Regions from separate parts of the Homo sapiens genome. Here region 2 is linked to region 1. The links come from fine-mapping of genetic effects on gene expression. A gene starts in region 1. The other region holds a variant in brackets. All regions are shown on one strand. Distances are between the middles of the regions. Region 1 holds the start of AASDHPPT (aminoadipate-semialdehyde dehydrogenase-phosphopantetheinyl transferase). Region 2 overlaps LINC02719 (long intergenic non-protein coding RNA 2719).

Evidence for each region. PIP is the estimated chance that this variant, and not a neighbour inherited with it, causes the effect.
Region 2: its variant is fine-mapped to the expression of AASDHPPT in whole blood (INTERVAL, PIP above 0.99).

The regions. Positions count from the first base shown.
Region 1 is chr11:106,070,561-106,086,204 of GRCh38, reverse strand. AASDHPPT (aminoadipate-semialdehyde dehydrogenase-phosphopantetheinyl transferase) reads right to left here and starts at 8,543. Exons shown (of 6, transcript NM_015423.3): 1 at 8,312-8,543; 2 at 6,513-6,738. The coding sequence starts at 8,494. KBTBD3 (kelch repeat and BTB domain containing 3) reads left to right here and starts at 8,858. Exons shown (of 4, transcript NM_198439.3): 1 at 8,858-8,893; 2 at 9,498-9,698. RefSeq lists enhancers at 8,276-8,515, 8,826-8,935, 8,946-9,065.
Region 2 is chr11:106,101,668-106,117,311 of GRCh38, reverse strand. LINC02719 (long intergenic non-protein coding RNA 2719) reads left to right here. Exons shown (of 3, transcript NR_135099.1): 3 at 4,689-4,853. Among named protein-coding and RNA genes, the nearest start is that of LINC02719, 23 kb to the left of the region's middle. The variant G/TG (reference allele first, on the strand shown) is at 7,998.

The DNA.
Region 1 (15,644 bases):
CCTTAACTTCCAGCCTTCCAGAACTTACAGAAGAGCTTTCGGTCACTTTAAGACACCATGTTTGAGGTACTTTGTTAAGCAGCCTGAAGAAACTAATATACACATGGATACAATTTAAATTATACATAAGCACACACATTCGCGTACCCTTCGGAGTTTTAATTCTATGTCCCTGCAGTCAAATGTTCAAATGCTGGTCCATCACTTCTTAGCTAGAGATTGAGGATCCCTAATCTGAAAACCTGAAATCCAAAATGCTATAAAACTCAAAGCTTTTTGAGCATCAAAATTATACTCAAAGGAAAAACTCAGTGGAGCACTGTGGATTTCCCACTAGGGATACTCAACCTGTGGGTTATTTATTTAACATTTACTTAACATCTCTATGGCTGTTTCTCAAACTGTAAAATTGGGACAAAGAATTGGGCAGATTAAGAATAAACATGTAAAATGCCTGGAACTATCAAGTACTTAATAAATATTAGCTCTGAGGTTGTTGTCAAAGTCATGGTTAAATGTGTATCTTCTTTTGTCAACTGTTTTTATAAAGTCCTTCCTATATTCATCAAGTAAGGCTTAAGTGGTTTTCCCATCGATATTTAGAGGGGCATTTCATATCTTAACAACATTAACCTTTGTCTGTCAAATTTGCCACCAATATATTCTCTGGTTTGTGAAAGATGATTTAATATGAAATCATATCTGTTGACTTAGTGGTTTATTATTTTAAGCTTCAAAAGCCATCTTTCAGAAGTTTGCTCAAATATACAATTACATTGTGTTCTAGTAAGTGTTAATAAAACTGGCCAGGCGCAGTGGCTCACGCCTGTAATCCCAGCACTTTGGGAGGCCGAGGCGGGTAGATCACGAGGTCAGGAGATCAAGACCACCCTGGCTAACACAGTGAAACCCCATCTCTACTAAAAATACAAAAAATTAGCCGGGCGTCGTGGCAAGTGCCTGTAGTCCCAGCTACTCTGGAGGCTGAGGCAGGAGAATGGTGTGAACCCAGGAGGCGGAGCTTGCAGTAAGCCAAGATCACGCCACTGCACTCCAGCCTGGGCAACAGAGCAAGACTGTCTCAAAAAAAAACAAACAAACCAAAAGTGTTAATAAAACTTTAATTTTGTTATAGTGTGAGGCAATGACTTTCTGATAATATCACTCATAAAAAATGGTAAATGGGCTACAATTTTTCTTTTTGTTAGTTCTGTAAATTACATCCAATACAGAATTTCCCAAACATTAATATGTCTATCAGCTGGGAATATTGTTTAAATATGGAAACCCGGCCAGGTGTGATGGCTCACGCCTGTAATCCCAGCACTTTGGGAGGCCAAGGCGGGCAGTTCACCTGAGGTCAGAAGTTCGAGACCAGCCTGGCCAACGTGGTGAAACTCCGTCTCTACTAAAAATACCAGGTGGCGGGTGCCTGGAATCCCAGCTACACTGGAGGCTGAGGCAAAAGAATTGCTTGAACCCAGGAGGCAGAGCTTGCAGTGAGCCAAGCACCAATGTACTCCAGCCTGGGCGACAGAGCCAGACTCTGTCTCAAAAAAAAAAAAGATTCTGCTATATATATTTTTCTATGATGTGATATTGGCTGGGCACAGTGGCTCACACCTCACGCCTGTAATCCTAGCACTTGGGAGGCTGAGGCAGGCAGATCACTTGAGCCCAGGAGTTCAATACTAGCCTAGGCAACATGGAGAAACCCTGTCTCTATTATAATATTAAATATATATATATTCTAAGTCCCTTCAGGTTCATATAGACCTAACTAATTCTTTTATTACAGCTAATAATTATCTGCAGAATGCATCCACCATTAATTTATTTAACCAATTTCTATTAGCAGCATTCAGGTTTTGTTGTTATTCATAAATATTTTGGATAGAGTACTATAAACAAGATCGCTAAATCAAAGACTATGTGTATTTTCAATTTTAACATTATTTTCCAAAAAGCCTGTAGCAATTTCTAGTGTTTCCATCTATATGATTGTTCTTTTCCGACATTTTCACAAGCTCTAAGTGTTTTTTTTCCAATTTTCTGCAAATCTGATGGGCACCTCACTGTTACTTTAATTTGCATTACTCTAATCATTAAGGTAATAGCTTACTGACTGCTTGAATTTGTTCTTCTGTAACGTGCCTATTAATATTTTCTAATCACTTCATAGAAGCTCTTTATATATTATGGATATTGACACCTTACCAAATTTGTTATAAGAATTTTCCTTATTCTATTATTTATCTTTTGTATTTGGTTATATTTTTGGAATATAATTTTTTTAAATTTAAATATCCATTCTTTGATAAATTCTGAACTCTGTCTCGTTTGAAAAGAATTCATAAAAAGATTTACTGCAACTCGACATCATAGTCAACTATATTTTGTCCTAAAATTTTAAACTTTTTTATTTTTAAATTTCTAATTCCTCCAAATTGGTGTATATAGTATGTGTTACATCCACATGACTAACCAATTCTACCAGCACCATTTAATAAATAATCTTTTATCCACTGAATTGAAATATGTATATATCCTGGGCTCTAAGATTAACTCTTCCAGTTGTCTATTCTTTCGCTAGTACCATACTCTTTTTAGTTTACAATGACTAACACAAGTTTTTGAAACTGGTAAGGCAAGACCCTTACTATATTTTTCATATTCCTAGTCATTAGTTCTTCCATAACAACTTTAAATGTATGTAACCCAGTTTCACAGAATTTTTCATATTTTGGTATCTGCAAATTCTTTTAATAGGAATCAATAAAATCTCATACTGAGAGGCCATATACTGTAGAGAGCAGTGGTTAAATATATGAAGTTTTACTTTTTAGCTAAGTCAACTTGGACAAATGTCTTAACCTTTTATATAAAATAACAGTAGTACTTACGCACTAGTCTTACAAAGATGAAATAATACCTATTAGGCATCTAATATAGTGTCACACACTTGTAGGAATTGCTCAATAAATACTAGTTACACAATCAAATCCTACTGACAAAGGAAAAAGACCGACCTGTAACTGGGAAGGAGGAAAACTCCTTGAGGGTGGAGACTTGGTTTTCCAGTAAGGAATTCAGAGTACAAAGTGATGTGTGAGTTTCTAAAACTACTTACAGGTTTTAAATCCCAAGTGCATTTAAAAAAAAAAGTCCAGCAAAGTTTATTTTAAAAATGTAAAGACGAACATGTAAAACCATAGGGGGAAAATTCTGGTCCTTTCCCAAATTTCAATCATAATTTTTATGTATTTTGTCTATTTTATTTTGCCTTACTTTGTAAATATGGTCACAAAACTAAACAATTCAAAAGTTACCCTTTATGCTTATCACTTCAAACACTTTTAATGGTAGAAAAAATTAGAAAACAAAGGGAAAACCAACCAAAATTTTCCAAAAGAGGGTAATAAATTAAGATGAAGACCAGGAAAACACCATTCTTCCTAAGAGTAAGAATGTACCGTCCTGGCATATGGTAGGCTATATACTAGGTATGTTCTCTCCTGCACGTCCACAGCAACAGTTGGGAGAACAGGTAGAGGGAGGGAAATGAGCTGCACTCAGCAGAAATGGTTAATGCACCATGAAAGAAAAAGACTCTCTGAGTTCCTAGTGGATTCTTACCTATAGGACAAGACAGAGTAATGGAATTGACTCTTTCAATGCACTAATGATAACCCCCAAAAGCCAACTCTGTCTTTAGAGTTGGCAATCTAGTAACAATGCCTAGTACAAAACAGAGTACTTTCCTTGCTGCTCTCCTAAGTTTTGCCTAGCATCATTTAGCAAGACTCTTAGGAAAAATCCCTTGCTCAATCTCCTCACTTACTACAATAAGTAGAGCAATTCAAAGAATCTCCAATGAAGCAAATCAGTGTCTACTTCCCATCTTCATTAAGAAATCATGCTGTGTCCATTGATGCTTCAGGAATCAGTAGCATGGTAACAACACTAGTGACAATTGGAAAATCTCTCTTCCTTTCTGTGTTACTGGACATAGCAACAGCTTTTTCACAACAAAATAAAGAAAAGGAAAAGGCCTAGACATTGTGATTAGTCAAGTAAGATCAACTAAAAAAAACTGGTGGGGGGAGGTCTAATAACACAATTAACAGGAAAACTAAATCTTAAATTTTTGCTCAATTGTCTTTCCATCATTTATTTTTCTTTTTTATTATTATTATTATTATACTTTAAGTTCTAGGGTACATGTGCACAATGTGCAGGTTAGTTACATATGTATACATGTGCCATGCTGGTGTGCTGCACCCATTAACTCATCATTTAGCATTAGGTGTATCTCCTAATGCTATCCCTCCCCCCTTCCCCCACCCACAACAGTCCCCAGAGTGTGATGTTCCCCTTCCTGTGTCCATGTGTTCTCATTGTTCAATTCCCATCTATGAGTGAGAACACCATCATTTATTAAAAGCTTCAGTTATTAATTACTTGTTTATCTAGCATTGACCATAGCCAACACTGCCCATCAAGTTAACTGGTAACAAAATCTGTTTCTCAGAAGTATCATTTCCAAGCAGATACCAACCCACTGGGCCAATTATTACCAGGTAGTTGTGCTGACTGCATTCTAAAAAACAATGGCCTTTCCATTTCTGATTTTAGAAAAAGTTCCTGTAATGACAGCAGAAAGCTACAAGAATATATGGGCTAATTCCCATGCTAAGAATCCTCTATAGCAGCAATTTTTTTAGAGTAAGCCACCTATGTCCCTGTTGAATACCAGATCCTTTCCCAAGAAAAATGCACATGTGCATATCATACAAAATGTAGCATACAGTTTCAGGAGGTAAACAAAATTCCTGGAATCTTATCCAGGGAATCAGATCAACAATCTGTTATAAGGTTTCCAAAATCACTAGTAGGGCCTTGTTCTGAACAAACCTGAGAATAGAGTTGTACTGGAAAGGTTTATTAGCAGGTAAGAGAAAGAGTAGCTAGTAGGAAAATGCAAGGTAAGGACAATAAAAGCAAAAGGGAGAAGAGATTCACAACCACACTGAAGCCTATACTCTAACAGCACAGTGTTTATTCATTCATTTGACAAATATTTTACTATTACATGCTAGGCAAGGTACTAAGAGATGTGATAGTGATCAAACTCTGATGTGGCTAACATGGTTCTTGCTCTCACACAGCTTTTAAGTATCAGGAAAAGATAATCAATCATCCTGATGAATAATCAACTGAGATACATTACTGGAATAAGGAAAATATATTTTATGAGAACCTACAACAAAAGAACCTAGCTTAGATTGAAGGCTCACAAAGCTTCCCTAAAGTAAGGTTAAGGTGAAATCTAACAAGTAAATAGGAGTTCTCTATGCAGAAATGGGAGTGAGAGATAAAATTAATACAAGCCTTACAGACTGAGAGAGCCACATATTCAAACCACATATGGTGCAGGCAGTATGGAGATTAGATAGTTTTACTATGAAATTAGGAAGATGTGGGTTCTTTTATTAATAGCTTTCTTCTTAGCCTGTTACTTATTTTCTTTAAAAATAGCAGTATATGCATCATAGGGTAGTTGAGAGAATTAAATCACAGAATATGTCTAAAGCACTATGTAAAATGCCATGACACGTGGTTAAGTGTTCATTAAATGTTAGTGATGATGACAAATATACAGCAGTTAAGAGAACCTGTATTTAGTATGTATTAAATTGCCTGGGTACATTCAACTTCACCACAAATGTTAGTGGTCCTTAAAGCCACCACTAACAAATTTCTAAGGCAATATATAAGCAACTTAAATATTTTAATAATGCTTGCTCCTCATTTTTACTTACATAAATGGGCTAAAAAGAGATGTATTTAGATGCAGAACAAAGAGTCGCCCGTTGGTATCCACTGGGGACTGGTTCCAGGACCCTCCTCAGATACCAAAATCTGCGCATGCGGCCCTATGGAACCTGCATATATGAAGTCAGCCCTCCACATCCTCAGGTTTCATATCCTGCAAATACTGAATCTTGATACACGTTTGATTGTGGATGCAGAATCTATGGGGACAGAGGGCCAACTACTGAAAAAAATTCACATGAGTAGACCCATGCAGTTCAAACTTGTGTTGTTCATGTGTCAACTGTATACGTTATCTCTACATAAGGACTACAATGTACTTTACTATTCAGATTCTTTTTTAAAAAACAAACAATTAACTGAAAAATTGTGGTTAATGTTTAAGTGAAATAAATTGAAGTATAATTCAAAAAAAATTTCACTTAATATTTCACTTTACCTCTAGGCAAAGTTATGGATCCCCAGTAACGGATAATCTATTATTTATGTGTAAGTCTGTAAATATTCATGGAAATATACCCTTTTCAGATTTATGCTCTCCATTACCTTTGTGTACTAAGCACATTTTCCCTAAACTGAAATATCTCTAATACATCTCCTGGCCTGAGATTACTCAATAGCAATAGAACTGAGGCATCGAGACACTTAACTGCCATACTAGAAAAATGCAACGTTACCTGGAAAACTAGTCTTCATTATATCAATTCCAACTTGCAGCTCAGGTTCAGCAGCAAGCACTGCATAGTCTCCTTGATGAGAGATGTTAAAGTTGAAATTCGGGTAAGGATTCGATGAGTCCTTTGCAAGAACTGGTTTTCCTTTTGCAGTTCTTTGCAAACGAATATGATTCCAAGGGATATTCAATTTCTCTGCAACTAATTTCCTTATCATCAGACGACCAGCCTGTTAAGTACATAAAACATTTGGTATGTACTGATGTCTACTAAAGATACAAGCACACTGTATGCAATAGTACTTTTTTTTGGTTTCTAAAATTTTCATTTTTAAAACTTTTCAAAATACTTAAGTATTAAACACACGTTAATTAAGACTTAAGCAATGCTTAAGTAGATAAAAAGTTAAAGCCCGCCTTAGCAATTCCCTCTCCTTTGCTAGTGACCAAAGTTAACAGCTGGCATCCTGTCAGTCTTTTCTGTATTTAAATATATGTGCATTTACATGTTTTTGCTAACTCTACATATAAACACAAACATGAGATTATACTTATGCAGTATTCTACCACATATAAGCTTTAAATTTATAAGTATTGGGAAGTATTTTATGTCTGTACACACACGTCTGGTCCATGCAGTTTTAACTGTAGCATATTTCATAATATTATTTCCCCTTTATTGGACATTTTAGGCTGGCTCTAGACTTGCTGTCAAAAACAACTCTGCAGTGAGCAACCCTACTGTACCTACATCTGTGCATATGTATTTCTAGATCCCATATATTGATCACCCAGCTTCAACAATTAGCAAGGCATGACCTATCTTGTTCTGCTCTCTCCCACCTCCAATTATTATTTTTTAAATAATTACTAAAAACACACACACAAAAAAACAAGAATATAAGATGACAAAGTATATATTTTTAAAAATATCTTTCAGGTTTTTTTCTTCTTCAATTCTAACACTGACTTTTAAAAACTGCAGGCTTTTAAATGTAGCTTATTTTACAATTCCTTACAAATGAGTAAAAAATTTTCACCAATGTGCCTTAAAAATTATCAACTAGTCTACATTTCAAACAGAAAGTGTTTCAATATGGGACATTTTTAAGAAAGGACTGTCTTTTAAATGATGGTAATTCACGGTTGTTTCAAATTGCACCATATTGTACAGATTACTTGTTTTGAAATCCAGTTTTCCATTTGTTGCTTCAAAATACATAGCTAAAATAAATAAATCTACGTAAAATACTGTTTCCCATGGCATCTAGTGAGGAAGGTATCCTCTCTGGCTTCAATTTCATTGGCTTCAATCCCGGGGAGCGCAGGGCTACAAACTAAATCATACTGTCAATAATTTCTAGGGCCTACCACGTGCAGGGAGTCCTTGGAGAATGATGGGATATTTAACAGGCAGAATAAGCATAGGCTATGAACGCACACAAACAAAAAAAAATAACATTTAAAGATAAAGACATAAAAACATTCATTACAGAAAAACCCAATTTTGTCGGCCTTCCCTACACTTATTTCATGGTTTAGGAGGGTCTCCATTTGAAATAACAAGGGGAAAGAGATAATGTTTACAGCCATCGCGGCCTCCAAGGCGGTTACAAAGGCCGTGGAAACCAGGCCGTGCGTCGCCCACAACTCCGCAGCGCCGGCTGCTGTCGCCCGGGCCGGCCACAGGCTCCACAGCGAGAGGGTCGCGGCCAGCGCGGGAGTGTCGGGTCTCCACAGCCCGGCCCGCCTCCCCCAAGATCTGCTTCCTAGGCTCTAAATACCAAAAAAGACCTGTAGTACCATGGCTGCCTTAGCGTCCCGGGCAAAGACGAACTGGCCAATGCGCTCCTTCTCCTCGGGCTGAATCGATCGCACTGCCAGCAGCCATTCGGCTCGGCTCGGCAGCCAAGTGCCGCAGGAAAAGGCCCAGCGCACGCCCTCCATGGATGGCACCAAGCAGAACCGTTTGGCAGGGAAAACCATACACTGAAAGCGGACCTCGCCGCTATCTCGGGCCTGATGGCGCGGACGCAAACGTGGCCCCACCCCCTTCTTCCCGGCGTCCGTGCGCAGGGGACGGGCCGTCGCTACGCAGACTGGCCCACCGACAGCCCTCCCAGCCCGCCCCCGACTCAGCCACCTCCTCTCGGAGAAAGCAGCTGGGGGCGGAGACGGAGATCAGCCCTGCGCTTTGCGGCATTGTATGACGTCAAGTAGGCGAGGCTTCGGAGGCGAGCGAAGGGCGGGACCAAGGCCAAGAGCCCGACAGTTACGCCACTCACACTTGCGGAAGAGTTAACGGGACAGCGGTGCAGGCCAATCGCAACCAGTCCTCTGGAGGCAGGGAGACTGGGGTGGAGACTTCGGAGACTGCAGTTGCAGGTGGGTGAGCTCCGGGGTCTGAGGGAGGAGTGGGATGGTAGCCCTTATTCTCAGGGTCTGAGTTGGCCCCTGTGACCCACAGAGAAGAGAATGTCCTTGGCTTCAGCTGCTTCGTGTACGGGGCACGAGAGGTTTCCATCTCTAGGAGGGGGTCTGCAGTGGTGCCCCCTGCAGTTGTGCAACGCATCAGCCCTGAGTTCCTTCTTTCCCTGCCCCCATCCGCATCAGCCTAAGACCCACCCTCACACAGTACGCTCCCGACCCTTAGCAGCAGCCTACCTGAAACCCTCCCTCCGAAGGCCGAGCAGAGGCACTATCCCCAGTGCGCAACACTGACCCCGCCTGGATCCGAGGCTGCCAGCGAGCAGCTGAGCTAATGCTGGCTGTTTATTTGGGGCGATGAAGCGACCCAGGTGCTGTTTTGCTATTGCCAAGCCTGGGCTAGAGCACTAGCGAGAAAACAGGATTCCATTGTTGAGGTATCAGTGTTTCCATCATGACAGAGGTCCTTGCTCTAACAGCAACAGAAACAAGTAAATAACTTTGCTCAGTTATTTTCTCAGACTTTGCGAAGGGTCATATTGATGTATGTCTGTTTCCTTAGTTGTTCCGTGTAGGCTGTTGTTGACTCTCGTATGAAAGCCCACGCGATCCAAGTGCCCTGCAGGTTTTGGTCCAGGGAAAAGTTGGTCTCTGCAGATGACTGTAAATGACTACCTGGAGGTCGATTAAAGTGCGGTACTGCGGGATTCAGCCGATTTCCTTCTTCCTCTGACTGCCCGGAAATATCAGCCAAAGGCCAGCGGTAGTAATTAACACAATTACCTGCCTATGATTTCTGTCCTATTTAAGATGGGTTCTATTATGTTTTTATCTATACTTGTCTTCATTAACTTTTCGTGATATCATAAGCCCCCCGAATCCCTCGAAAGTAGATGGGATTCTGAGCACACACACACACAAATTCAGATCCCCAAAGGACAGTAAAACGAATTATTGGCTTAATATATCATCTTAGCTAACCAAAAGCCTGTGTCAGCTGCCATGTTGAAAATCTGCTTACCAGCTGCAGGGAGCTTACAATCTGGTAAGGCAAATAAATCATACGCATAAAAAGTACAATAAGAGACAGTGTAAAGATACGTAAGTGATACTAATACCCATATCAGCAATGATCATAACTCACTTCTCCATTTTTAACTAAGAATCATATAACCTTTCCTTCTTGTCGTTTTAAACTGATTTTTATAACTTTGATACATTACGTTTCTGTTTCCAAAACACTTCTGTGTACGTTATTGCACATGTTCTGTGCACTAGTTATTACTGATGGAGACAATGAGCTCAGAAAGAGAATTTGTTTAAATTCAGGAATTCATATCCCATTATTTTACCATCGAGCAAGATCTCTGTGTATTAGATCTATGGAGCCTAATACACAGACAGTAACGTAGGGATTATTTGTACTTGGTCTAGAATCTAGAATATTCTCCCCTTCTCCCATTATCACATTCCTTGTTTCCTCTGTATCATTCAGGCCCAAATCTCATACCAAACAGAATGTCTCTGTTCACCTAGTCTAAAATAGCTTACTCTCTCCACTTCCAAACCTCAGCCCCAAACCTATCACCCTGTGAACATATTTTATAGGTTTGTTTAATCCCCTTCCCTGTGTGGTTTTACAAATTCTCCAGAGCTTAGCTTAAACCTTCTCTTAGGGCCTACTTCAGAGTACCTTTTTCCAAAACAGTATTGTTTATGTAATTCATTTGGCAGTTATTCTAGTATTGCCTTATGACGTCTCTCCTATTGTCCTGAATTATTTTCATGTGTGTTATCTTGCAAAATAGAATGTACAGTACTTGAGAGGGAATGTCATGTATACCTTTTACAAATAGTATACATGAGTAAATGTTATTAATGACTCCACAATAGATTTATTACTGTCAAGGGTAACACTGCTTTTTATATTCTATCTGCCTTTACTTCCCTCACTTTTATTAAGGAAATATAAATATGCAGTTCATAACTTGCTTAACTATATTAAATGAACCCAACAATTTTATTAAAATATTTTTTACTGCATTGGTCAGGGGAAGAAGAGGACTAAAGTAATAGGGGCTCACTCAGTCTGTAATGATCATCTTGCTTGGTGCTGATCTGTGGCTTCTTAGCAGGATTCTGAGGGACTCGTATTCTATTTCCAGCTCTACCACCAATTGTCTGTGTGACATTGGTCACACAGGATCCTATGTGTGACATAACCTCTTCCATGTATTAATTTCAATGGAAAGGCATCGGATGAGATCATCTCTAAGTCTAGGTGTTTTTTAGATATACTCACTAACTTTTTATTGGGTCACAAACTTTATTCTACCTCAAACCCTTCTTTTTTCCCCCAAGACTTATTTGAATAGCTCCATAATTCTACCAGTTTCTCAAGGAAGAAACCATGATGCTGCTCTTCTTTGACTCCCTATATCCAATCCATCTCCAAGTGTTTTTGGCTCTATTTCTAAAATACAGAAAAATCCATTTATTTCTCTTTATTCCCACTGTTAACAATCTAGTATAACCCACCATCATTTTTCATCTGAAATACTAATCAGTTTTCTAGCCTGCCTGAGAAAGGGGAGCACTCTCTTCCAATGTCTTCTATGCCATAAGCACAACTTGCTTTCAGAGCTAAATCTAGAAATCTATGCCCTTAATTCTTATGTTACATTGCCCTCTAATTAGACTGAGAAGGAGAGGCCAGCAAGGTAGGAAACCTGAAGAATGTTGTGGCACAGAAACTAAAAGACGAGTGTTTCAAGGACTAGTTAACAGTGTGAATTATCCTAAGAGGTGAAATAAGATGAGGAGAGAGAAGTGAGAATTTACCTTCAAGATGGTAGTGTGGTGACATTGACAAGGGCAGTTTTAATGGAGTAAAAGAAAGGAATTTTATTGTAGTGGGTTGAGACGATAACTGGAGGTGATGCTACCACAGAGTGTCCTTTAAAGAAGTTTTTCTGGATTTAGGAAGTAGAAAAATGGAATGGTAGCTAGAGGGAATAAAAGGTCAAAGGACAGATTTTTGTTTGATGTTTGTTTAAAGATGGAAGATACTAGAATTTGCATGCTAATGGAAAATGTCTAGTAGGGTGGGAGAAGCTCTTAATGTATGAGAAGGAAGGGGTATGTGTGTGGGGGGGGGTGTTCGGCATTCTAAAGTAGACTCCAGGGTAGAGGACCTTGTCTATGTTGTTTTTCGCTGTATTTCTAGTATCTAGAATAGTACCTGCCACAATATTTGTTACTCCATAAACTGTCTAATATTTGTTGAATAAATGAATGACTTGGACCCTACTTCTCTTACCTCCTTTCAATTCATTCTTGACATATTAGCTAGAAAAATATTTTTTAAAAAAATGATGTCATGTCACTGTCCAATTTAAAGTAATCAGTCGTTCCTATTTCACTTAGAATAAAATCCCAGCTCCTGTGACCCATAGCATCCTGACTGAGGTAGCAACTGCCTTCTGCAGCCCTATCTCCTAACCCTCTTCCTTTCATTAACTACTCCAGCCACACTGGCCGCCTTTAATTTCCTAAAACTGAAGGACTCCTTTACCCCTGTAGGGCTTTATATGTGATTTCTTCCACCAACCCCTTACCTTCTTATCATTCAATTCTCAAATGACACTTCAGAAAGGCTTTCCCTAATATTGTAGTGGCTGAAAGCAAGGGCTCTTGAGCCAAACTGAGTTCACATACCAACTCCCTGCTTACTTGCTATATGATCTTAGCCAAATTACTTAAATTATCAAAGCCTGTTTTCTCTGTTTGTAAAATGAAGATAAGTATCTCCTTTATCCAGTTTTTTTTTTGAAGATTAAAAGAGTATGTGTAAAACATATAGCATGGGACCAGGCATGGTGGCTCATGCCTGTAGTCAACAGCACTTTGGGAGGCTGAGGCATGAGGATCACTTAAGGCCAGGAGTTTGAGACCAACTTGGGTAACATAGTGAGATCCCATCTCTAAATTAAAAAAAAAAAAAAAAAAAAAGCTGAGTGTGCTAATGCACGCCTGTAAATCCCAGCTACTCAGGAGGATGAAGTGGGAGGACTGCTTGAGCCCAGGAGGTTGAGGCTTCAGTGAGCTGTGATCTTGCCACTGCAGTCCATCCTGGGTGACACAGCAAGACCCTGTCTCAAAAAAACAAACAAAAAATATAGTACAAAGCATGGCACATTATAAGCACTGTATAAGTGTTCCCTGTTACCCCTTTTGTTATTGTCTGAAATTGAATGCCCCATTGTTCATTTTTATTTCCACTTCCTACTTGTGTCTTCACAGTACTTATAAAAATGTATAATTATTTATTTGCCTACTTTATTTATTATGTCATTTTCACCAGATACTGGACAAGGAAAAAGCAGGGACCATGTCTGTCTTTTATTCTCTTTATATCTCTAGTGCCTAATTCGGTGCTTGTCATATACTTAGCATCTATAATAAATATTTACTAAAATAGGCCAGAAATCATGCTGTATATTGAAACATCAGTGACGAAACTAAGATCACTGTAGGACCCAGTGAAATCAAAGCCCAGATCAGGCAGAGCACAGCTTTAGTTTAACGTTCTGCTTTTATCAAGTGGCATATGATTTTTGTCATTACTTTTTATCAAAGGCTTGGTTCTTAGGCTTGACTCTTCTACCTTTATTCATTCAATTCTTTAAATCAAATTTTAATGGAAGGCTTTTAAAAAAAAGAATAACAATCATTTTAAAAATTGAGTCAGTGTTTTGGGCAGGAAGGTGTTTCATTGAAGCTGGGGTGTAATCTTAAAAGTACACTATTTTATATACTACTAAGAAAAAAAATGCCAACTATGGCACAACTCTTTATCACTAAGAATTTTTTCTACTCATGCAAAGAGCCCCCTTTTAAAAAAATCATATAACACCCTTGCACCTACATACAAAGAACAATATGAGCAAAATTCATTGGCTGAGGCATTCCTAAAACTTCTTAACATTCAAAGTGTCTTTTCATTGATTTTCAACTCAGAGTCTCTGTGTCCATGTTTTATTTTCATAATATCATTCTCTGTTTAGAGCATTAGTGATATATCATTTCTTAAATCAATGTCCATTATTATCTCCAAGGTTTTCTTCCAACACACTGATATCCATTCTTCAAATTTAATACACATGTAATGACAAATATGTCATGACTACTACCCAACCAGAGTGATTTTAAGATGCCTGTCAGTTTCAGATAAGTGTGAAAAAATTTGTGTCTTAAAATCAATGAAATAGCATAATTGAATTTGAAGAATATTTGAAGAAAAATAATTGCCTTATAAATCTTTTGCCAAGAATTGAGAATTGTTTAACTGTTAATAATGTTATTGATTTTAATCATTAATATTTACATATAATTTGACGATATTAACTTAATATTCATTGTATCATTTAAGTCTCACAACAGTCCAGTGTCATAGGTGTGTCCACTTTGCAGATGAGGAAGCCAAAGCCTCAGAGAGCCTAAGTAGGAGTCACTAATAAGTGATGAACCATTTAGGACTATTTCTCTAGTTGCAAATGTCATATTCTTTGTTATTTGCAAAATACACTTATACAAGTAGGATTTACTCAAATGAAATTTAAGAAATAGAAATTTTCAGCTCCTTAGATTTGTCATTCTGTATAGAATATACATGGCAGACTTTTTTTAAAAACAGTGTTATAAAAGTGAATAGCTATCTGTGATTCTTTATATTATTTTAGGATAGTTGAAATTTTCAAGTAAAACTTGTTTTTGTTACTATTTATAGAAATAAAAATAACTTTGTGTTTACATCATGTGGTCCACTTATTCATGAACCATGAGGCTCAATAATTGACTTAATCCAACACAAGATCTAAATTACATACATGATTTTCATGACAGTAAAGTTAATTAAAAAGTGTTTGTGGTTAGAGTTTTAAAAATTGATATTCTCAGGACCTATGCCACTATGCAGAAATACAGTTTTTATTCTTTTGGAAGTATCTCCTTTAGTCACCTTTTTACTGTTTTATTTCCGACTTATTTTACAATACAGAGGAATGATTTTATACCAATTAAATAATTATGTTTTATTTGCATTTTCTATGTTTTGAGCAAGAAGAAAGCTGGAACATCAAAATAGTTTCTGAATTGATTGATCTTTTGTTATCTTTTAATATCTTAAAATAATTACACAAGAAGTTGTAAAGATAGAGTTTCCATGTACCCTTCACCCTGTTTCCCCATATGGGTGCATACATAATTCTAGTAAAAGATCAAAACCAGGAATTTGACATTAGTACAATGTGTGTGTGTAGTTTCTTGTAATTTTCTCACGTGTAGATTCCTGTAACCTATCTAAATTATGTGTATCAACACTTCATCCATTTTTAATGGCGAGTAGTATTCCACGGTATGGATGTACCATGATTTGTTTACTCTTTCACCTATTGTGCAACATTTTGGTTGTCCTCAGCTTTTGGCTATACAAATGAAGCATTATGAAACATGTAGAGGCTATTGCACACACACAAGCTTTTATTTCTAATGGTCAGCAGCATGATTCTTGGGTAATATGGTATGTGTATGTTTAGTTTTTTTAAGAAACTGCCAAACTATTTCCACCAGCAATGTATGGGTGATCCAGTGTCTCTGCAAGCCCTCAAGCATTTGGTGTTGTCATTATATTTTATTTTAGCTATTTTGA
Region 2 (15,644 bases), 31 kb before region 1:
AAAGGAAAAAGAAAGGAAATAAGATGGAGATATTTTTAGTTCAAGTGTATACATGAACAAACATGTTCTTAACAAAAGGAGGAGGAAATATTCATGACAATTATGGTTCTCGTTTCTGCAACTGGTCATGTGGTTGTAGCTGGTATTGATGCCTAACCTCCTTCTACTACCCATTCTGTATTCCCTTTGCCTTTCGCAAGCACCTCAGCAGGTCATGGCTTTTTACCTGGTGGAGTGAACCAAACCTTCATTCCTGAAGGGTCTGGGGCCATTTGCAGTCCTGCCTGGATTGGGTTGTTGTTGTTTCCCATTGACCTTAATCACAGGTCATGGTAACACTAAGAGGTACCGTAAGGGATCTCCTGTATTCCACGCATACTCTTCTTCACCTCCATTGTGGAGTAGAAGACTGATATCATTTTGATAGTCTGGGTCAATCACCTCAGCCAACACTGTAACTCCCTTCTTAGCCTGTTGACAGAGGTAGAAGGAGCCCAAAGTGGCCAGGTGGCAATTTTAACTTCTAGCTTAATGGAATCAGTGTTGTGTCTCCTGGTGGCAGCGTTCCTCCCAATGCAACTAAGACCTCTAGGCCAGTAGAATGTGATGTTGTGGGAACAGGAAGCAAAAATTTTGCTAGTGGGTCACTAGAAGTGATGGTGAGCGGTGCCACTTCTGCTTCCACCCCTTGATTCCTGGACCTGTGAATCCTGGCTATAGGAGAAACAGTACTGTATATTGGATGCTGATTCAGAGCATACAAAGCCTTCTGGAGAACTTTGTCCCAGCCCTGCAAAATATTGTCACCTAGTTGGCGTTGTAATTTCAAAAGGCCATTCCACCATTCTATCATCCTGCTTCAGAATGATGGGGAATGGAGTAAGACCAGTGAATTCCATGAGCATGAGCTCACTGCTGTACTTCTTTAGCCATAAAGTGAGTGCCTTGGTCAGAGGCAATGCCATGTGAAACACCATGATGGTGGATAAGGCATTCCATGAGTCCATGAATGGTAGTCTTGGCAGAAGCATAGAATGCAGGATAGGCAAAGCTATATCTAGAGCAACTGTCTATTCCAGTTAGGACAAACCACTGTCCTTTCCATGATAGAAGAGGTCCAATATAATCATTTCATGTTGTTAACTTGCCACCAAGTAGCTGGCTGATCACCCTGAGGAATGGTGACACACTGAGGACTCAGCGTTGTTCTCTGCTGCTGGCAAATTGGGCACTCAGCAGTGGTTGTAGCCAGGTCAGCTTTGGTGAGTGGAAGTTCATGTTGCTGAGCCCATGTGTAACGTCCATCCCTGCCACCAAGGCCACTTTGTTCATGGGCCTATTGGGTGTTGACAGGGGTGGATGGGGAAAGAGGCTGAGTAGTGTCCATAGAATGAGTCATCCTATCCACTTTATTAAAATCCCCCTTTGCTGAGGTCACCCTTTGGTGAGCACCCACAGGAGACACAAATATCTTCACAGTTTTTGACCACTTAGAGAGGCCCATCCACATACCTCTTCCCCAAATTTCTTTGTCACCAATTTTCCAATCATGCTTCTTCCAAGTCCCTGACCATCCAGCCAAACCATTGGCTACAGTCCTTGAATCAGCATATCATCACACATCTGGCCGTTTCTCCTTCCATGCAAAGTGCACAATGAGGTTCGCTGCTCGAAGTTCTGCCCAATGGGAAGATTTCCCTTCACTGCTGTCCTTCAGGGATGTCCTAGAAAGGGGCTGTAGTGCTGCAGCTGTCCACTTCAGGTGGTGCCCGCATATCATGCAGAACCATCTGCGAACCAGGCCCTAGTCTTCTCTTCATCTGTCACCTCAGCATTGGGAACTCCCCATGAGGCCACTGGTGTAGGCTAGTGGGGAGAAGGCAGGGTGGCAGGATTGGGGACCATGGGCATTTGAGCCACTTCCTCATGTAACTTACTTGTGCCCTCAGGACCTGCTCAAGCCCAATCACGTACATGCCACTTTCATTTGATGATGGAATGCTACCATGCACATCCCGCTTTATGACCAGATGTGTCAGAAAGCACTCAGTTCATGATAGGCAGTTCAGGTTGCATGGTGACTTGATGACCCATAGTCAAACGTTCAGTTTCTACCAAAGCCCAGTAACAGGCCAAGAGCTGTCTCTCAAAAGGAGAGTAGTTACCTGCAGAAGATGATGGCAGGGCCTTGCTCCAGAATCCTAGAGGCCTCTGCTATGATTCACCTATGGGGGCCTGCCAAAGGCTACAAACAGCATCCCTATCTGCCACTGGCACCTCAAGCACCATTGGCTCTGCTATGTCATATAGCCCAAGTGGCAGAGCAGCTTGCACAGCAGCCTGGACCTGTTGCAGAGACTTCTCCTGTTCTAGACCCCACTCAAAACTGGCAGCTTTTTGGGTCATTCGATAAATGGGCTGGAGTAACACACCCAAATGAGGAATGTGTTGCCTCCAAAATCCAATTAGGCACACTAGGCTCATGGTAATGACCTTGGGTTGGGGCCTTTTTTTATTTTTCTGATGAGCAAGGGCATGATCTTGGTTTTTAATATAACAGAGTTGGAAGACCACGGAGCTTTTTAAGTGGAGGAATCAGATAATCAGACCTAAGTTAAAAAAGAAAAAAAAAGCATTCTGGTTTATGTATTAAAAAATAAAATAGTGAGTTAGAGAGGCAAAAATAAGGAAACAACTGACAAGGCTGTCGCAACATTCTAGATGAAGAATGATGGTGGCTTGGACCACAGTGGTAATTGTCGAGGTGATGAAAAGTGGTCTGATTTAGATATATTTCAAATAAAAGGCCAACAGTACTTGCTGACAGATTGGATGTGAGGGTGGGGTATGCAAGAAAGGGAAGAGTAAAGGAAACTCCAAGATTTTTAACTCAAGCATCTGAAAAAATAGAATTTATTTTTACCATGGAGACATAACTGTGGAATTAACAGATTTTAAGGAAATGAAGATTTCATTTTGGGACATAATGTATTTGAGATACTTTTTAGACGTCCAAGTGAAGATGTCAAATAGAGAGATATATGAGCCTAGAGTTCAGGGGAGAGCTCTGGACCAGAGACATAGATTTGGTGATAATCAATGTATAAATGTATTTAAAGAGAATGAGTGTAGAAAGAGTAGAGATCTGAGGACTGGATCTAGGACCTGCCAACATTTAGGGTTTGGGGAGATAAATGGAATTAGCAAAGGAGACTGAGAAAAACTGACCAATGAGAAAAAAAAAAACTTGAAGTAGTATCCTAAAAGTGAAGATGCTGTATCAAAAAAGAAAGCATTTACAGTGAGTTAAATGCTGCTGATAGGTCAAGTAAGATGAGGACTGAGAACTGCCCAAAGGACTTAGCAACATGGAAGTCTTTGGTGACTTTGAAAAAAGAAGTATCAGTGGTCAATGAGGCCTGATTTGAGTTGGTTTTAGAATTATTATAATAGATAAGAAGAACTGTAGATGATGAAGTCATCTCCAGTTTTTGCAGAAAAGGGAAACTGAAATATGGTACAGTATCCAAGAGGGAAGGATGGAGTGAAAGAGGATTCTTTCTTTCTTTTCTTTCTTTTCTCTTTTTCTTTCTTTCTTTCCTTTCTTTCTTTCTCTCTCTCTTTCTTTCTCTCTCTTTCTTTCTCTCTCTTTCTCTTTCTTCTTCTATCTCTCTCTTTTTCTTTCTCTCTCTCTTTCTCTCTTTCTTCTCTCTTTCTCTTTTTAAAAAAGCATCAGTTTGGTGAAAAAAGGAGAGGATTTCTTTTTAAGATGAGAAAAGTAACAACATGTTTATGTTTCTGGGAATGATGCCATAATTGACGGGAAATTGATGTGCCAAAGAGGTGAGATTTTCCAAAGTACCATCCGGAGTAGAGGGAATGAATCTAGTGTCCAAATCAAGGGGCTGGGCTTAGACAGGAGTGTGGACATTCCTCTCTAGTGGCAGGAGGGAAGGCACACTGCCTGGGCACAGATGTAGCAAGGTGGGTGGATGTGATGGAGGAAGCTTGGGGAAATTCTCTTCCGAGACATCTGCTTTTTCAGTGGAATAGGAAGCAAGGTAATCAGCAAAAAGCAAAGATGGAGAATGTATTAGAAATTGAAGAAGAGAAGGGAAAGTATGGAAAAGTTATCTGGGTGAGTGGACCAGGAATGATTGTGGGGCAGCACTACAAACCATTTAATATTGGGTCATGAATTGAAATGAGAGCAATCAGCTGGGAAGGACAAGTACAGAAAAGGCAGAGGGTAAATGGATTTAGGGGTCTGAAAGTCAATGAGGAGCAAGTATACCTAAGGAGTGGAATAGTGAAATAAAGTTGAGAAGTGAAGATTTGGAGGAGGTTTGTAACTGGAGTGTTGTAAGCCATATTAAGGACTTTATACTTGAACCTACAGGATAAGAGAGAGCTAAAACCCTGTTTTTCAGGGAAGACAATGGCACAATTTAATTTGGTTTGCAAGAAAGACAGTTCTGGAAAGTATGAACAGGACAGACTGAAAATTGTATTGGTGGATATACAGACCATGTGTTGGTACCTATAATGTCTTCTTAGAATCAGGACATATAGTTCACCCTGTAAAACGAAACTGGCAAATAAAAAGTTTCCTAAAGAAATGTTGAAAAATCTGAACCCATCATGAGTTCCCATTAAGCTTATCTAACTGGCTTTCTTAATTTTCCTAGGTACCTCACATAAATGAACTCTTGTGCTCTGAAAGAAAAGTTTGTTCTTGCCCTGCCTCAAGGTCAGCAGAAAGAAAATATTCTCTTACAACATGGCATGTAAGAAATAGAGAAAAGAGGAAAGAAAATCTATTTGAAATAAAGCAACCATTTCTCATGATGAAAAATCTGCACAATTACTTTGGACGCAATATATTGCACCTGTTTCTGGCTGATGCCTCCTAAATTAGGCTTTTAAGTGATCAAATACTGCACGTTTCACACATACCCTAAAAGTAGTATGAAATACAAGTGACTGGGATAAAACATAAGTAAACTAGGAATGAAAATGTCATTTTTTTCTATAAAATTGAAATAATTGCTTTGGGAACAGTTTTCTATTTGATAGCTACATGAGTATATCTATCTTGACCTGTCAACTTTTTTTGAGAAATACCATTTTTAATGATAATTCTAAATACAAATGTGGTTAAAGTCCAGGGAGAAGTAAGTATTTTTTCCCTTAGTAAATTAATCATGCCCAAAGTTGAAAGGATGTCAGTTTTGCAAAAGGCAATTTTGACAAATGATGTATTTGATATTTGAACACTGATTTCTGCAAATACAAATGCAGGAATGCTGTGTCCTTAACGCAAAATTACATGCCATTATTTTTTACAAATCTGGAAATTCTTTTCCACATGAATATTGTCCTCAAGGGATTGTATTTATTCATCTACACTTTTCTTTCTCAAATGACTACCTTTATTAAGATTCCAGGATAAGGCTTTTCTAGCCTATCTCAGCTTTAAAATGGCTTTAATTCATATGTTTCAAGATGCACAGCTTTATCTTGAATATTCAAATAAAAGAAAAATACCTCAAATTAAATTTTTTTTTTCTGAGAGTGTCTTGATATATTGTCCAGGTTGGCCTCTAACTCCTGGGCTCAAGGGATTCTCCTGCCTCAGTCTCCAGAGTAGCTGGGACTACAGATGTGCACCACTGAGCTTGGCTCATATTAATTCTTTGATTGTTAAATAAAATAGGTCTCCAACAATGATATAAACCGAATTTCATCAGATTATGCTTACCTCTTCCGTGTTACTAAGTGATTAATGTTTTCAGTCAACTTCATGACCAACTGCACTCATTTATATATGAGGGGTTCCTAGGAAAACAACAGGAATTTATACTTGAAAATTCAGAGTATTTCTTTGTTTCAATTATCATTCACTGCAAATGTTTCACTGTCTACAGGTCTATTTTAAATCCCTAAATTAATATCAGATTTCACAGGTATTGATTATTATCTAAGTCTTTAGCTCCTTCACAGTGTTCATATGCTCTGAAAAGATATTTATTTGGATAAAATGCTCTAACCTTTTATTTTTAGGAGCTTCATATACACAGAAATAAAAAACCAGTAACATTTTCCTTATACTTAAGAGTCAATGAAAGCACCATCTCTGCCCTTCCACCTCTTGACACCAATTTAAAAACTACCATTAAATGGCCACTAGATCATCATCCACAAACTCTGAGCAACAGTTTGTTTGGAAATGCAAAATAAAAACCAGAGTTCAACAGTTATAAGTAGTTGCACTATGACCTATAGTATTTCTATTTGTATATCAAAATTATGGACAGCTATTTTTTTATCAACTTAATGATTTCACAACTGGTATCCACTGGAATTAAGTTTTTCATTGCCAACATGATATATATTTTAAAGCAAAGCTCTTTCTAAAATATAAAATCAATAAAAAAATTTCTATTTTAAACAATCATCTACACCCAAAGAGACAATGATATTCACTTAATTATAAGTAACTGGCTTTCAAAGCCTACTACGGTTTTCACCAATAAAGCCCTGGCATTTTTATCAAGAACATATGTTACACTGTTTTAACAAAAGCAATGAAATAAACAAACAAACAAAAAACAAACAAACAAAAAAAACAAAAGCAATGGCTTTTTCCTTTACATTTTAGTATAAAATTATAGCCGTTGCTTCAACATTATTAATTCATTGTGTAATTCTGACACTTTCATAAGGAAACAACTTTTAATATTTTTTAATTGTTAAATTGTGCAGAATAAATTTAAATGATCATCAAGGACTATACAAATTGCAGTAGTAAAAAATATAAATATAACATCCAAATTCAATTTATGGGGATAATTATTCAGAATCTAAACTTAATCTCATTTCCTGAAACAGGAGACTTCCTTCAAGGGCAGCTTCACTCACAACATATAAGGCAGAAGTATGATTTTCACCATTCATCTTGATGACAATGTGGTATAGATATAAAAGAATGTGCTTTTGAGTCTGTGGAAACTAAATTAAAATCAGAATGACATCATTTATGAGTTAATATGACCTCTGAAAAATTGTCTAATTTCCTTGGGCCTCAGATTTTACATTCTTGAAATACAAGTAACGGTGCTTACTTTGTAGTGTGGCTATGATGTTTAAATTAAGAATATTAGTCAAGTGTTAACAGAATGCCTGGAACTTAAGAGTCCAAAGGTGGAAGGAAGACAGAGATTTTATACAAATAAATATAGAAATATATACAGTAATGTAGCAGATTATGACATTTTGGTCAATGATAGACCACATATACAATAGTGGCCTCATAAGATTATAATGGGGCTGAAACATTCCTATTGCCTAGTGGCATAATAGCTGTTGTAACTTCACAGCACCATGTATTATTCGCGTGTTTGTGGTGATGCTGGTGTAAACAAACCTGCAACACTGCCGGTTGTATGAAAGTCTAGTGCATACAAGTATGTTCAGTACAGAATACTTGATAATGATAACAAATGACTGTTACTGGGTTGTGTATTTACTATAGTATACATTTAATTGTTATTTTAAAATTTACTCCTTCTACTTCTGTGAAACAGCCTCAGGCAAGCCCTTTAGGAGATATTCCAGAAGGCATTGTTATCAGGAGATGACAGATCCTTGTATGTTATTGCCCCTGAAGACCTTCCAGTGGGACAAGATGTGGAGGTGGAAGACAGTGACATTGATGGTCCTGAATCTGTACAGGCCCAAACTAATGTGTGTGCATTGCGACTTAGATTTTAACAAAAAGTAAAAAAAAGTCCCAATTTCAAAAATAGAGAAAAGCTTATAGAATAAGGATACAAACAGAAAATATTTTTGTAGAGCATACGATGTGTGTGTTTTAAGTTTTGTTACAAAAGAGTAAAAATGTTTAAAACATAAAAGTCTATAAAGTTTAAAAGCTATACTAAGCTAAAGTTAATTTATTATTGAAGAAGGAAAAATATTTCTTTTTTTTTTTTTTT[G/TG]AGACGGAGTCTCGCTCTGTCGCCCAGGCTGGAGCGCAGTGGCGGGACCTCGGCTCACTGCAAGCTCCGCCTCCCGGGTTCACGCCATTCTCCTGCCTCAGCCTCCCAAGTAGCTGGGACTACAGGTGCCCGCCACCACGCCCGGCTATTTTTTGTATTTTTTAGTAGAGACGGGGTTTCACCGTTTTAGCCGGGATGGTCTCGATCTCCTGACCTCGTGATCCGCCCGCCTCGGCCTCCCAAAGTGCTGGGATTACAGGCGTGAGCCACCGCGCCCGGCCGGAAAAATATTTCTTATAGTGTTAGTGTAGCCGAGGTGTATAGTGTTGATAACATCTGCAGTAGTGGATAGTAAGGTCCTAGGACTCCACATTGACTCACTACTCTCTCACTGATGCACCCAGGGCAACTTCCAGCCCTGTAATCTCTATTCATGGTAATTGCCCTATACAATGTGTACCATTAAAAATGGCATACCACTTTTAGTCTTTTATACCATATTTTAACTGTACTTTTTCTACGTATAGATATGTTTATATACATAAATACTTACCATTATGTTATAATTGCCTACAGTATTCAGTACAGTAATATGTTGTTCAGATTTGTAGCCTGGGAGCAATAGCCTCTACCATATAGCCTAGGTGTGTAGTAGGCTGTACCATCTAGGTTCGTGTAAGTATATTCTATAATGTTCACACAATAATGAAATCACCTAATGGACACATTTCTCATAATATAGCCCTATCATTAAGCAACGCATGACTGTACTTGAAAATTGGAATATTGGCAAAGAAAGAAAGAGATTAGCATTATGTGAGCAAATAGAGAGAATGGGGAAATAAATAATCCATCTGAGAAAGTGAATAATTATGTCATAGGGGTAGAGACATGTTGTGGGATGAATTTTGTCACCCCAAATTCATATGTTGAAGTCCTAATCCCTAGTATCTCAGAATGTGCCAGTATTTGGACATAAGATAATTAAGGGGTAATTAGGGTTAAATGATGTCATTAGGGTGGGCACTAATCTAATATGACTGGTGTCCTCGTAAGAAGAGATGAAGACACAGATCAACATAAAGACCATGCAGAAACACAGGGAGAGGGGGAGAGGAGGGTCATCTACAAACCAAGGAGAGAGGTCTCAGAAGAAACCGACCCTACTGACACCCTAATCTCAGACTTCTAGCCCTTCGGGACTGTGAGGAGATAAATTTCTGTTTAAGCCACATAGTCTGTGGTACTTTGTTATGGTAGCCCTAGACAACTAAAACAAAACCACAGCATTCATTCATTCAACAAATAGTTATTGAGCCTTTATATGAGCTAGGCACTGTTATAAGACCATGGGGAAATAGGAGTAAACAAAACTAGTTTAAATCCCTGTCTTCCTTGGATCTTATAGTCTGGCAAGGACTGGAGCTGAGACATACAATAATGAAGACACTAAAATGTATGGTGCGTTTGATTGTGGTTAAGCCCCACAGGGAAAATAAAGCAGAGAACCTAGATCTGGAGTGTTGGGGATGGGAAACAGAATGATGTACAATTTTAGAGTGTCCGGGGGTAGTCACTAAGGAGATGACTGTCAAATAAAGATCTGATGGAAGTAAGGGGTGAACAATGCGAGTATCTGGGAGAAGAACATTCCAGACAAAGGGACAGCAAATGTAGAGACCTGAAGTAGGACTGTGCCTAGTATATTCAAGGAACAGGGAGGATTCCAGTGTGGTTGCAGTAAAGTGAAGATAGGGAGAATAGTATTAGTTGAGTGCAAAAGTAATTGTGGTTTTTGCGCTGTTGATATTGGAATATATTCTTAAATAAATGTAGTTATGTTATATATCATTTTAACGGGCATTTCTCGCTTTTTTTTTTGCTAATGACTTATTACTTGCTGTTTATTTATGTTTATTTTAGACTGTGGAAACGATGTTAGACAAAGAGCAAATTCGAGCGTTTTCTTATTCGAGTTCAAAATGGGTTGTAAAGCAGCAAAGACAACTCGCAATATCAGCAACACATATGGCCCAGGAACTGCTAATGAATGTACAGTGCAGTGGTGGTTCAAGAAGTTTTGCAAAGGAGACGAGAGCCTTGAAGATGAGGAGTGTACCGGCCAGCCATTGGAAGTTGACAACGACCAATTGAGAGCAACCATCGAACCCTCTTAAAACTCCACAAGAAGTTGCCGAAGAACTCAACGTCGACCATGCTACAGTCATTCAGCATTTGAAGAAAATTGGAAAGGTGAAAAATCTCAGTAAGTGGGTGCCTCATGAGCTAACTGAAAATAAAAAGTTTTTAAAAGTGTCTTCTCTTATTTTACGCAAAAACAACAAACCGTTTCTTGATCGGATTGTGATGTGAGACGAAAAGTGGATTTTATATGTTAACTGGTGATGACCAGCTCAGTGGCTGGATCAACAAGAAGCTCCAAAACACTTCCCAAAGCCAAACTTGCAAAACAAAAAGGTCCCGGTCACTGTTTGGTGGTCTCTTGCCCATCTGATCCACTACAACTTTCTGAATCCTGCAGAACCATTACATCTGAGAATTATGCCCAGCAAATCGATGAGATGCATCGAAAACTGCAACTCCTGCAGCCAGCATCGGCCCACAGAAAAGGCTCAATTCTTCTTCACAACAACGCCTGACTGCCCATCGCATAACCAATGCTTCAAAAGTTGAACAAATTGGGCTATGAAATTTTGCCTCATCTGCCATATTCACCTGAGCTCTTGCCAACCAACCACCACTTTTTGCAGGGAAAACGCTCCCAGAACCAGCAGGATGCAGAAAATTCTTTCCAAGAGTTTGTCAAATCCTGAAGCATGGATTTTTATGCTACAGGAATAAACTTATTTCTCACTGGCAAAACTGTGTTGATTGTAATGGTTCCTACTTTGATTAATAAAGATGTGTCTGAGCTTAGTTATAATGATTTAAAATTCACGGTCTGAAACTGCAATTGCTTTTGCACCGACCTAATAGGAAGTGAGAATAAGAGTAGGAAATGAGAATGAGAAAGAGAATAGTACAGTAGGGAGCAACAGAGGCCAGATCATGTAGGCTACTATGCTTGTTAGAAAGACTCTGGCTTTTACTGTGAGGGAGATGGCTGCAATGCGGAGAATATACTGAAGGGGGAAAGACTGGAAGTAGGGAGTCCATTGGGGAGACCGTGGCAATCACCCAGGTGAGGCAGTGGTGGCCTGGACCAGGTGAGGAGCGGCGGAGATGGTGAAGAGTGGTCCAACTCTGGGTGTGGTTTGAAGGTTGAACTGACAGTTTTGCTCAAGTATTGTGTGTTGAAAGAAGTACTCAAGTACTGTGTATAAGAAAGAAGCATATGTGTGGAGTAGGAGAGAAAAGAGGATGATTCCATGGATTTGAGTCCAAGTGGCTGGAAGGATGAAGATCCCATATACTGAGATGGAGGAAGACAGAAGGACAGAGGGACAAATGATCCCAGGGATGGTAGAGGTTTGGGTAAGAAGGGGTGGGGAATGCCTAGTAAGAACTTACTTTCAAACGTATTATGTGCAAGCTACCAGTGGATATCAAGAGGACATGTGTAGGCATCTGGAAATCTGAGACTGGAGGCAGGTAAGAGGTCTTGAGAGGTGTGGACAGACATTAAATATTTGGGAGGCATCAGCATATGGATAGTACTTGAAGCTTGAGAATGAATGAGATCACCAAGGGAATAAGTATTAATAGAAAAGTGATGAGCTATGAGGACCAAGATTTGGAATGTTCAATGATTTGAGAGGATGAGGAAGAACTAACATAAAGGTAAGCAGTGGTCAGAGGTAAAATTACCTGTTACATTTGTAGTGCCTCCATTGGCCTGACAGAATTTTCACAGATACATGGCTCCCCTCCAAACAGGCAGCCTTAGGAGCTACCAGGTAAGTGGATTATAGCAACAGATCAGACATAGTTATTTTGCCTTCAAAAATTCATAGAAGCTCATCAAGCATTATGCTGCTCTATTTATTGTGTTTGGTGCAAAACGATGCAACCCCTTTCATTTTAGAGGGAATATTCCTTTATTCCCTATGTCAAGCCTCTGAACTTTTACAGCATTTATCTCCTATCTTCTGGCATGCATGTGTCTTACCACCAAGGTCACCAGAAAACAGAATGCTATCAGTGTAATGGATCAAGGCCCCTCTTGACTACATTGTGATAGAGAACCCGAGAGCTACAAAACAGTGACTGCTGTCTCTGTCATATGAAGATATATTGCTTTTGAGTTTCTTTGCTGATAGGAATTAAAAAGAAAGCATTTGCTAAGTGAACAATTTCATTTGAGGTCCCATGGGTTGTGTTGACTTGTTCCAGTAACAACACCCAAAATTGACATCACTATCTGATTAAATTTCAATAATCTACAGTCATTTCCCAAGACTAATATTTTGCCTTAGCCAAACAGGTAAGCTCAATGGGGATGTGGGCAAGTAACACTGGATGAAGAGATGACTGCACTAAGAGATGGTGGGTGGCATAGATTGATGATGTGAGGAAGGAAGGAGAATTGTCTGACAGTGTACCTAAGGAACAAGAACAGCATCCATGCCACTCCCAGGCCAGGGAAAATTAGGAAGTTTGGAGTGAAAACATCCACATCACCCCTCTACATCTTTCAAGTGTCTGATTGTGGCACTAATCTCTGCAGTTCCTTTAGGGATGCAGTATTACTTGGCTTACTGCCTTAGCTGGAGGCAGGGATGAGCGGTTCTAGGGGCTTCCACTTGGTCCTTGCTACCACAATTTTCACCTCGCAGGGAAAGGAACCAATGTGGGGCACCTGCAAATTAGTAAGTACAGTTGGCCCTCTCTATCTGTAGGGGTCGCAACTGTGGATTCAGCCAACAACTGTTCAAAATTTAAAACACAATACAACAATAAAAATAATATACATTAGGAAAACAATAGAGTACAACAATAATTACGTATTGTAAGTGATCTAGAGAGGATTTCAAGTAGCTGAGAGGATGGGCTTAGGATGTGCAAATACTATGCCATTATATAAGGGTCTTAAGCACCCATGGATTTTGTATCTGAGGGGGGTCCTGCAACCAACCCCCACAGATACTGAGAGACAACCGTGTATTTATTCCACTATTCAAGTGAAACTGGGGAAATAACCACATTATGAGATGGACTCAGGCCAAGACTGCATTTTCCCTGATGTCTATAGCTTCCACTTTGACAAGGCAACACAGACGCAGTTTGGGCTCACTATTATCAATTCAGAACCAGTATCTAACAGGCCCCAGAAGTTCTTCGTATTTCTCTTTCCCCGGTGAAAAATCACCATGGTAAATGGACACAGGTGTCCCTAGAAAAGATTGGGAGAAGATTTCTCTTGTATACTTGTGACTGCATTGCAGGATTCTTTGTCAAAAGGATCTAGCTACCCCCTTCATTAAGAGATCCTAAGTCTATAAAATGGCTAAGTTCTTTAAAAAATTAAAGCAGCAGTGGATCATCCTCACAGTGATTTCAGTCAAGTGTCTGTCCACCAGACCTAGAAATTTTCTGTTAATGTGTCAAACAGATCCTTGCAGGCTGCCCATTTAATCTACTCCTAGAGACCCTGTGATCAATGAACCATCACCAGAAACCCCTGTGGCACAAGACCCTTTGATTATTACTCTCAAGTACCATCTCATGATCTCAACAATTCTGGAATCGCATTATTCCCATTGAAAACAAGTAACCTAAATTCACTGCAGCATCTTTGATCTACAGAGATGATACCACAAGGCTTTTCAAGGTACTCCTTTACTAATGGATTTAAAAAAACATCCTTGGTGAAGTGATGGTCTTCTAAGCCCATCCCTCAGAGGATGAATGAGCAGATTAGCAAAGAACAGATCCGCATTCCTGTCTTCCTAAGACTCTGGACTCTTTCAGTCAGGAAAGTTCTAACATTTCAACACAGTTGACTGTAGGCCACCACTGAGTTTAGGTTTTAGTTAACCAATGTGACAGACTTATCACCATTCCCAGATTCTCAGGCCAACACATTAACTCACATTTTCTGTGAGTATGCCTGCCTTATCTGATGTAACCCCTTTTGGTCAAATACCCTTAGAATCCACTCCTATTCTGTCCTCCAAATCCCTACAATGCAAAGTGGCAATATTCTGCAACTCTTCTGAATAGGCCCTTCCTCCGGACCTGATCTTATACTTCTCTGTTTAGGGTATTTGTTATTTTCCAAAAAGTAAAGATGGATAGTGGATGTAAATCCTGAGGTTAACTGATACCTGCTTATGAGAGAACCATCTCAGGTGAATTCATTGATACACTGTTTTTCCTTTGCAGGGCAAGTGGAGATGCGTACTGGGCTATTCTTGTGTTGTTATAAAGAAACACTTGAGACTGCGCAATTTATAAAGAAAAAAGTTTAATTGGCTTATGGTTCTGCAGGCTTTACACGGAGCATGATGCTGGCATCTGCCTAGCTTCTAGGGAGGCCTCAGGAAGCTTACACTCATGGAGGAAAGTGAAGGGGGAGTAGGCAGAAAGCAGAAGCAAGTGAGAGAGTGAGGGGGAGGTGCCACCTGCTTTACAACAACCAGGTCTCACGAGAACTCACTATCACAAAGACAGCACCAAGATGATGGTGATAAACCATTCATTAGAAATCTGCCCCCATGATTCAGTCACCTCCCACCAGGCCCCACTTCCAACATTGGGGATTAGAATTCAACATGACATCTGAAACTGTATCAGGAGGTAAGACTTCCCCCTCAGACAAATGGGGCTGCCTCTGCCAGTAGGAAAGTTTCAGGGAAATGTAAAAGGCTTAAGCTTCTCAGCCTTTCCTGTGGCGATCCAAATGTTCCCATCTCATTTCTGAAGGCCCCACTTCTTCCATACCAATGCCCTTACCTTAGCATGTGAGACCCAGTACTGGCCAGTAATTGGTATTACAACTCAGCAGCCCTTACAATAAAAGCTCTAGGTTTGAGTCTTAGCTATATCTACAAAATACAAGATATTCCCCTAGAGTTGCCATAGATTTTGTGATGCTTTGTTTTTTTCCCAATTTTTCCCTTTGCTTTCAATTTGTCCTTTCCCCTGTGTATATGCTCTAGACATTCAAAAGAGCCAGTCCTCCTAACGATCTCTGTAATCTCTACCATGACCATAGTGACTATGTGCCACAGCCCCTTGATCTTCCAACACTGTACTCCACTTGTATTCCATGACTCCATGACATTACTAGTAATGATGTAAGCAATTGTGACATCACCACTTGCCACCAATGATAAGCATCCATTTTCCCTGACAAGGAAGTTATTTGTATATACATCAAATATGTGAGCAATCCAATTCCAGAATTCCACTTTCCCAGGACTACTCATGGTACAAATTACTGTATTAGTCAGGGTTGTAGCAGGAAACAGATGGCACAACCAAAAGTAATGATCAAAGAGGGTGTAGGCAAGAATAACAAAAATCTATGGAGATGGTGCAGCAGCTTAGGCTAAGCAAGAGCAAGATCTTTCTACTTCTAAAATGAAAAGGCAGGGAAAAGTTGTTCCTGAACCCATGAGATGTATATATGGAGAAGGCTATGTCAGAAGCTGTGATGCTGAGGAACACAGCTATTTCCAAGCC